3 separate regions of the Homo sapiens genome follow, and all the other regions are reported to be linked to region 2. Evidence: microRNA targets listed by miRTarBase, many of them from high-throughput screens and not tested one by one. Region 2 holds a microRNA gene; each other region holds the end of a gene's coding sequence.

Region 1 (3,260 bases), not on the chromosome of region 2:
TGTGTGAATGCAGGGAGTGATGTAAGAGGGCAAGCAGAAAGGGTCCCGAGAGGTGGAGAGAGAAATTCTGCTTCCTCTAATGTACTGCATTCCTCTTTCCCTCTCCTTCCCCATCTCATCTTTGTGCTCCTGTGCACTGTACGTATGCAAATCTCTTAAGGTCCATCTTAATGCAACGCTGTTAGAACTTGAGACTTCAGTTTACTCTTTTTTTTCCTCTAATTTTGGCCCACTCTGGCAGGTGAAATTGAGACAGAAGCACATTCCAAAGAAGAAAAAAAAGCACTGAGGAAGTCAGATGTGACTTTGGGTGAGTACCTTCCCTCTATGTTATTCCCTCATCTTTAAGTGAGAGTGATAATCACCGCCTGGCCTATTTCACATACTTTTGTACAGATCAAATAAAATAGTTTATGTGAAAGTATAAATGTTGAAGTGTCATTGAGAGGTAAGAAACTATTATATGGTTGTGGCCGGGCGCGGTGGCTCACTCCTGTAATCCCAGCACTTTGGGAGGCCGAGGAGGATCACGAGGTCAGGAGATTGAGACCATCCTGGCTAACATGGTGAAACCCCGTCTACTAAAAATACAAAAAAAAAAAAAAAATAGCCAAGCGTGGTGGCGGGCGCCTGTAGTCCCAGCTAGTCGGGAGGCTGAGGCAGGAGAATGTCGTGAACCCAGGAGGCGGAGCTTGCAGTGAGCCGAGATGGTGCCACTGCACTCCAGCCTGGGCGACAGAGTGAGACTCCGTCTCAAAAAAAAAAAAAAAAAAAAGAGACGAAACTATTATGTGGTTGTGCTGCCCTGCCCTCAGTATGTTGTGTAATAAATATAATAGGGGTATGAATAATTGTGCAATGAATACATCCTGATGGTAAAAAATTTAATGTACACACAAAAGGGGGTAGGCAGATAGGAGGGAAACAATATTGTAACATCCCACTGTACTATTGGTTCTCAACCCTACCTCCACTTTAGGATTGTCAGGAGAGCTTTTAAAATAAAAACATCCTAAATGCAATTCTATATCCTGGATTGGACCCTGAAGCAGACAAAGCACATTAGTGGAAAAATTCATGAAAACGGAATAATGTCTGTAGTTAATGGTAGTGTAACTATCCTGATTTCTTAGTTTTGACAAATGGCCCATGGTTATGTAAGACGTTAACATTGGTGTAAACTGGGCGAAAGGTATATAGTAACTTTTGTACTATCATGACAACTTTTCTGTAATTCTAAAATTATTCCTCCAAAAACTATTATTTGAAGCATAAAACAATTAAAAAATAAATATACCTATGCCTGTACATCAGCTAGATGGGGGAATCTGAATCCCTGGGGGAGAAGTCTGGACATATATGTATTTTTGAAACCTTCCCAGGTGAGTCTAATGTACCAGAAGGGTTGAAAGAACCACTGCTCTCTCATGTTCATTATACCATGAATGCCTGAGGGACTGTGACCCTGTCTTGTTCTTTGATATAGCTAGTACCTAGCACAGTGTCTATATGGAAAGCTTGTGCAAGTGTGTTCTTGCTGAATGAAACTTTATTTGCAAAAATATCCTTAGTCCTCTGTAATAACAGAAGGAAAAGTGAAAACAAAAAATACCAGGGTAGATTTTCAGACATCTTCCCATCCAGAACAGCTTCTATTCCTGCCCCGGTCTCTTGTCGTTTTCAGTTAATCTTTACCATTATCACCATATTTACCATATTCCTAAAATAGTGAAATTGCCATTCCATTGTTCAAAAATCTGACTTCATTCCCCATTTTTAACAAGTGATATATTTCTTGGTTAGGTAAGCAAAATATTCTATGCTCTAGTAATATGAGCTTTTCAGCATGCAAGCCTACTACTATTTCATATGGACTCTACATTAACCATAGTTTGCCTGCAGTTCTCTTGAACATGTTTTGAACTCACCCTTCTCTTTGTCACATACAGTAATGCTGCTATCCTCATCTATGCAAATACTTTCCGTCTTTCAAGGCTTCATGCCTGTGTAATTTTTTCAGGTCACTCCAGCAAAAAGTGAGCATTCTCTGTTTGTATCTACCATTCAAATGGCACCAGCCCTTACTATTTTCTTTTGTGATTATTTGTTTTCTGTTTTATTTCCCCATGAAACCAAATTAACCCCACCGTGGGGTGTTAGATAGGTCTTCTAACCTCCGCAATTCTTAACATGATGGTATCCACACAGTTAAGCATGTAATAATGATTTAATGTACATTGTGCACAAATACAATATTTAAAAAATAAAAATAGAAAATCAAAATTCAAATACAAAAGTAAACTACATTCATCACTCCAAAATATCTTTTAAGGAGAATTGTTAAAACTGACCAAAAGAGTCAACTAAAGCCTGAATAAAATTTTGATGCTACTGTTACATTAATAATTGAACAGCATTTACAAGAAAACTATATACTCCACAAAATGTATGTGTTCAGTCTTAGTCACTTATCTGCTCTTAAGACGTAAATAAATGTTCTTAGGGGGGAAAACCAATTATCCAGTCCTCCCCGCTTCCTTATTTGTCTGTTCCCACCACTATCCTCTCCCCGACCTATACATACATACACACACACACACACACACACACACACACATTCTAGCATGATATTGTCTATGTGGTAGAGCCTTAAAAAATGTTATTTCTTTCAGATATGGTCTACAAATAGAAAAAATAATATTAATGAGCATTGTCAAAAGTTTTACAATATTTTGAGAAAATCACGCATAAACTATTAAGCTGTATGTTCCATTGGACCACAACTTTATGGTTGAGCATTGTTAAAACAAAACATAACTATAGACATCATTTTCTGGATGACTCTCATTCAGAATTGCTGGTATTCCTGGCTCTTCTTTGGGTTTTTCTTTCATTTCTGTAAAATCAAATAAAATAAAAAATAGATTCAATAAATTGTATTGGGACAATTGACTCTCCATTTGGAGGAAGAAAAACTGCTTTACAACATACACAACAACAAACCGTAGATGGGGTAAATTTTTAAATACCATAAAGTTATAGAAATAATAGTGTTTTTAGTAATCTTAGGATGCTAAGCAGAACACAGAGACCAGAAACCATAAAGGAAAAGACTAGCAAGTTCGAATACCTAAAAAGTAAAATTATATATGGTGAAAACCACTATAAACAAAGTTAAACCAAATCAAAGACAACTGGAAAAATATTTGCAACATATACATAGTAAAAACTATTATTTAAAGAGGTTTTTTAATCGGAAA
Region 2 (3,260 bases):
TCTCCAGCTGCTTCCCCTTCAATCTTTCCCATCCCAGTGAACGGCACCTTTCAACAGGAGGTTCTGTTTCCGACAGAAATCCAGGTGTCAGCCTTGACCGCTACCATCCTTCCCCATCTACATCCACAAAGCAACACCAACTCAGCCTCCAAAGGGCTTTCAAGGTCATCCCACCTCTCAGCCTCTCTTCTCTTCCTTATGCTGCTGCAGTAGTGCCCCTCATTGGACCCCCTCTCCCACACTTTCTCTCCTGCAGGTCTTGTCCACATATATCCTGGAGCCCTATCTTAAAGCCCAGCTCTGCTCCTGCCACTCACTTATCACCATTCCAAGCCTCCCCGGCTTGGCACTGCTCTTAGGATAATGGCCAGTCTTCTAGCAGGCACTCCAGCCTCATCCCTCATCCTGTCCCCCTATCCATATCCCATCCTCCTAACTAACAGAACCTCTCGATTTCCTGGGTGGATCACACGTTCTCTCAACCCCAGCATTTCCCCTGCTGTTCTGTCGGCCTGAAGCCCCTCCCTCCCTCATCTTATGTTTTGTTAACTCCTCTTTGTCCTTTGGGTCTCAGATCAAACACCTCTTCCATGTAGAGGCTTCTCTGACCCTAGACCAGGCTGTGTCCCGGCTGCTCCTCCTAGCATCACACTCACGCCACTTCATCATCATCACTCGCTCTGTGTCTCTCACCCATCAGGACATCTGCTCCGCTCACTACCGTATCCCCAGCACCTAGCACAGGCAAGCGCTCATCCATATTTGTTGGAAGAATTAATGATGGAACAGATTACTTAAAGATCACAAACGGAGCACTGGTTAAGCCTCCCAGGGATCCGAAGAGAAAAGGGCAGGAGGCCCCAGCTGGAAGATCCAGATTGGCTGGTAGATCACAGCTTGGCCAATGTGTGGCAACTGCTGCCAAGCCCCCATCTCCATCGCCCTGGGGGAATTTGGGGCCGGCTTAATATGTGTTGAAAAACCACTTCCGAGGGTGTGCTCATCCCTTGAGAGAAAAGCCACGTCGACGCCTTCTAGCTTCTAGCTTCTAGCTGTATCTTCTGGTGCACTGGAAACGGCCCAACCCTTGGCTGCATTCTCCATCCCAACACACACACACACACACACACACACACACACACACAGCCTTCCATTCCTGCTTCTGCGGGGGCTCATTAAGTCAGACCACACTGCAGGCTTTGCTGTGTCTGACTGCCACCTCTCGGATTGGGCTGTCAGCACAAACCCTCACTCATAAAGAAAAAGGCAGCTTCCTGTCCATCCTGAGGTGTCTGTGTGAGTGTGTACCAGAGCCCAGGGGAAGGAACAGTGAGAGAGAAGGGAGAATGGGCGTTTGCGGGAGTGGAGAGGTAGAAGAGGGAAGGGAAGAGGAGAGAAAAGAAGATATTAATTTTGAGCTATCAAGCGGGAGGTGGGAGAGAGGCTTTTCTTAGTGAAGCAGTAGGGCACAGTCACTAAAAAGGAAGATTTTGGGGAGTCAGACACCTCAAGCTGGAAATCAGCCTTGCCACTTACCAGCTGAGTGGCTTTGGGCAAGACACTCCCTTCTCTGAACCGCAGTTCTCAGATGTTGCTCTGAGGGTTAAGTGGATCGTGTGTGATGTGCCTGGCTCGGTTCCTGGCTCACTGGGTGAGCTCTGTTAAGTGGCAGCTGTTGTTGCTGCCACTGCCACTGTTGTCCTCACTCCTGTTGGGGAACATGCCCCACTCCTGTGTCCCACCTCACCCCCCTCACTCACCCACTCCCCGGAGTGTGGGGACTTGTCATGGCTCCAATCACTGCATCTGTGGCTAGAGTGGCTTTTAAAGGCTCAGACTCGAACCACTGATCCAGCACCTGGACAGCACAACAGCAGAGAGAAGGGCTTAGGAGCCTGGATGGGAGGAGGGCCCTCTCACTGCCTGGTCGGGCCTGAGGCTGGGGAACCACTCACCTTGGTAATGGGAGCTGTGAGGACCTCATAATATCGGGGAAGCTGGGCTCCCAGGATGCGGCCTACAAGAGAAGATCCACAAAACAGAAGTTGAAACAGGTGACAGGGAAACCCTCCGACCTGGCCTGGGGGATAAAAGCATGGAGGATGCTGAGACTTCCTGCCAGGAGGTGGTATAGCACAGCCAATGCAGGGACAGATCCAGCTTGAGTCCTGGCCACACCTCTCACTAGCTGCAGTGCCTGGGACACATTTTTAACATCTCTGAACCTGCTTCTTTACCTGTAAAATGGGAATCCTATTTTACACCCCAAGGGCTACGGTGAGGATTAAATGAGCTAGGTAAAGCATTTGCAAGTTCATGGGTACTTAATACATTTAAGCAGTTAGCATTATTTTTGGAAAATTTTAAACTTGTACCTTATTCCCTTATTTCGAACTCTGGAAGGCCCATATCCTGGGAGAAGGCTGGCATGGCTGATCCATTCCTATGACCCTGATTCAGACCATTTCAGAAAGAAACTAGGCTTTAAGGCCTTCAGGGTAGAAATCATGGTCTCTAGCCTTACAGCCCCTGGGCCTAGCTTAGTGTCTGACACATAGTAGTTGCTCAATAAATGTTTTTTGCCTGTTTTTCACACAGAGCTCCTTGGACTGGTTATCTGAGAGAGAGGCAGTGTCTACTTTTTGCATTTGTAATAGATTCCACTGGCTCCATACTCTTTGCAATGTATAAGTCTGCAGTGCCTCTCAACCCACCACAACTTGGTTAACCTGCCTGGCTCCTTGGCTCTGGGCTCATCCATGTGATTTGGTCAGCCAGTGGAATGTTTGCCGATGTGACACAAACCCAGAACTGAAACAGGCCTGTACATTGGGGCATGCCCTCTGTGCTTGTGCCACTGATGTGAAAAGTCCACACCCAGGTCAGCATGTGCTTCTACAAGGAGGACGAGAGGTACCTGGAGCAGAGCTGCCTCCACTGAGCTGCTGCAGACACAAACACATGCCTGAGACCAAACCAGATCAGCTGAGCCAGCTGGAATCAGCTGAACCACGAAGACATGTGGGAAACAAATGATTTTTTTTCTAGGATATAGAGGTTAAACTGGTCTGTATACCCTCAAGGAGGGTAGAAAATAATAGCACACTTAATGAGCCTTCCATTCGCATACTCATGGCAGACATTACTAATTGATCACAGAACTTCTCCTTGCTGAGCCCAAATCTAGCATTCTTCCTGTATGGGGGCAGCTCTTCAAATCTCTTGGCCCCTATATCTTATTCTAGCCACAGCCATGATGC
Region 3 (3,214 bases), not on the chromosome of region 2:
CACCTTTATCCTTGGCTCCTAAGCACAATGAATCCCTGCCTCCTGTGCCTCCACTGTTCTTCCCTTCTAATTCTATGATGCCACCATGTAATATAGTGGTTTTCATGTTAGTCACTGAGCTTAAGGCGTCCATATGGTCTAGTGGGGTGAATAATATGTAATCTTATCTGTCAGCCTGTCATCCATCCATCCCTCCATCAACTTGGTTAGCATTTTGATACTGGTATGCCCAAGACTCCCTCTGATGCTAGTATTCGTGGATTCTGCATATTATCTAACTTCCGCGCAGAGACAAAAGTACACGTTACAGGCTAAGTACATGATACAGGCATCCAGAATCATTTATGTCTTGATGACTGCTAAATTTCCAGGGCTCAATAACTTAGTAGGTTTCAATAAATGTGTTGAATGAACAAATTAGTTAATTCCTAGAAATTGATGGAAGATTGACTTAGGTTATAGGTACAGTAAAAACAAATACCCCTGCCTCTAATTAAAAAAAATAAATTTACTTCTTCCAATTGCTACAGATAATTATCACTTATATATATTATGTACAATATTCTCTATTCCAAAATGTATTTCTGGAGAAACACAGATGAGCACACACTGGCAAGCATAGAGCAGTTAGGACCTAGCAGGAGTAGACCAGCAGTCCTGCAGGAATACAGCCCGAGCTTCTGTAGCCCGAGGCCCTTACTGCTATGACCCAGGCCACTCCCCTGTCTTGAGCAGGCCACACACCAGCAGCACCAGCTGGGTTGTTAATTGTTAACTTCCAGCTTTGCCACTTCCTTCCTTCTCCAATAGCTTCCAGTACTTGTCCTGATTTTTTCTTTTCATCTGCTTATGTTCATGACCCCATTTTCCCCTACATACCAATCTAACCACCCAAAGACATAAATAAGAGAATAACCTGGTGAAGTGATCTCCATTAGAACCAATACCACAAATATTTTCAAGTTTTCTTGAAAAAAAAAAAAAAAGACTATACTCTCAAGGATCATTTCTATAGTTTGTTACTAAAGAAGTTTCTCTGAATTTGTAGAGCACCGAAATTATTAAAAAAAAAAAATTAAATTCCCGGTAGGAGGAAAGTAGATACTAACTGTGATGTTACCCCTTGCTTATTTCTTTGAAATGAAATAAAACTGGCTTAAATGACAATACACACATCCATGTTTGCTTTAAAGTCTTTATTATCCCGAATATAAAAGACAGAGTCCTCTAGGATATAACAGAGTTCTTTACGTGGAAACATTATTTTTTTACAAGTGAAAAAATAAATACCTCTTGGAATAAAGGCTTATATGCTAATATGTGCCATAAAAAAGTAGAGTTTTAATATTTGACAAAATGTCTGTGCAAAGAAACAAATGCATAAACACATTACTGCTACATTAAGGCAATATGAAAAGTATACTCAGAAATCTCAGTAAAGTGACAGTGTAGGTTTCTAGCTTTACCTTAGCTAGTATTGCACCCGATAAGGTCATCTAGGTCTCCCGACATCCCAGAAAACCTGCTAGCTGACCAGCTTCCAAAATGCCCAAGTGGGAGTGGAAAACATGTTTAAGAAAACAGAAGCAAAAAGAACCAAAACCCCTTCGAAACATACAGAGGGGACAACCCAAAGTTAATACTTAAGCACTTACTTTAAAAAAACACAACAAAACTCCCCCCCCAAAAACAGAAAAGGACACCATATCTAAATACTTATGGTAAGGCTATAAAAGGCTTGAACAGTTCAAGCAAAGCAACACCAGTGGGTGAAGCTGGGATCGAGTGCTTGGGAGAAGTGATGAGTTAACTACCCTCAGTTGTACACCATGAGGCTCCATCTCTCACTCAGCAAGCTCCGCTTTCCCTTCCCAAGGAGAGTGCTCTCTGTTTTCAGTCTGAAATAAAATATTCCACCAGCTCAGAAGGCCCGGGGAGTACTTGACTACTCCACAGTAATCTTATAACAAGATTGGTAGTATTTTATAATCGAAAGGCTTGTGGGGTAGGGATAGGGGGAGCGTAAAGGAATAGGGAGCCACCCACATTGAGTGAGCTGCTTTTTACTAGCCACACTGGTTTAAATCTGACAACATTGTCAACTTTTTAAAAGTCACAGAATTGATTTGTAAACCTGTTTGCCTTCCAATCATTCTTGATCAAGTTATAAAGACAGAAATGACATTAAAACGACAACAATTTACAAAAGACTTTCCTATTAAAAATGGTTGGAGCTCCATGACCATACAAAAAGAATGAAATTCTTAAAAGTAATTCTTACAAAATCTGCTGCCAGTAGGAAACTTACCTCAGGATACATTAAGGAGACTTACAACATCATTTCCTAAAAGGTACCCAACTTTTTGGCTATGTTGCCACTTCACTGACATCAAAGACTTTACCTATTCCTTTACTAGATCATAAAAAAAATCAACATCCAAGGAATGTGTCTGCGTCCCAGAGCTCCTCCTGGTCCCATGACTGGAGTTGTTGATTCTACGCATGGATATGTTTTTGCAGTGAGGAGTAGCTGTGTTATTTTTCTTCCTTTTTTTTTTTTTTAACATCGCATGGCAGATGGGTGTTGGAATAATTACTTTCTCCACAATCTATCATTTTAATAGTTTATAATAGTGCAGTTCATGGAAACATGCCAAGTCCAACAAAAGCACAACAGATTAGATTACAGTCAGATTGAGAAGACTGGTGTGCGTTGGCAGATAGACGTGCTGGACATGCTCCACACGCGACCTGCAGACGGGACATGACTGGGAAAGAAAAGCCAACAGTCTCTGTTAGCATGCAAGCCTCGGTGGGGGGCCTGTGTCTCTGTGCACACCCCTGGTCTCTAGTGCATTTAATTTTCTAAATCAATTGTGATCACAGTGATTTCTAGCTTTCAATTGGTAGAGATCTTTGCCGTCTCACAGGTTGAAAGTTTATACTTTACAAGGGCTTAAAAATAAATACTATGACATAGTATAAACTGAAGGAAATTAATTACATTTTTAGTGAAACGCTAAAGAAGGTACATTGAATAAAGCAATTACTGAAGACGTCTTTCTGTGCAGAATGTGGTCTCTACATGAGTAGACTATAACACTTCAGGCAGCAATGCAGGAGACCCTTCTTGAAATTGTGTGTCCTTAGCTCAGCTGACTGACTCAGGCCAACATTTCTGGGCTGATGCCCACATGGCCAGGGAGGGTGGCTC

Evidence for each region. The annotated mature microRNA hsa-miR-1287-3p reads CUCUAGCCACAGAUGCAGUGAU and lies in region 2 at 1,797-1,818, opposite strand. An mRNA with a match to its seed (bases 2 to 7 or 8) in the 3' UTR can be bound and repressed. Matches are read on the target gene's strand: a 7mer-m8 pairs with bases 2 to 8, a 7mer-A1 pairs with bases 2 to 7 and ends in A, and an 8mer does both.
Region 1: the mRNA of HEMGN is a reported target of hsa-miR-1287-3p. Seed matches in the 3' UTR shown: 7mer-A1 at 2,618-2,624.
Region 3: the mRNA of MYLIP is a reported target of hsa-miR-1287-3p. Seed matches in the 3' UTR shown: 7mer-A1 at 1,455-1,461.

The regions. Positions count from the first base shown.
Region 1 is chr9:97,924,583-97,927,842 of GRCh38, forward strand. It overlaps HEMGN (hemogen), which reads right to left. Exons shown (of 4, transcript NM_197978.3): 4 at 2,209-2,896. The coding sequence ends at 2,802. Among named protein-coding and RNA genes, the nearest start is that of TRMO, 3.7 kb to the left of the region's middle.
Region 2 is chr10:98,393,436-98,396,695 of GRCh38, forward strand. MIR1287 (microRNA 1287) reads right to left here and starts at 1,872; the gene lies at 1,783-1,872. PYROXD2 (pyridine nucleotide-disulphide oxidoreductase domain 2) reads right to left here. Exons shown (of 16, transcript NM_032709.3): 7 at 1,956-2,017; 8 at 1,761-1,858.
Region 3 is chr6:16,146,216-16,149,429 of GRCh38, reverse strand. It overlaps MYLIP (myosin regulatory light chain interacting protein), which reads right to left. Exons shown (of 7, transcript NM_013262.4): 7 at 1,182-2,768. The coding sequence ends at 2,679. It also overlaps the pseudogene LOC124901514. Among named protein-coding and RNA genes, the nearest start is that of MIR4639, 6.3 kb to the right of the region's middle.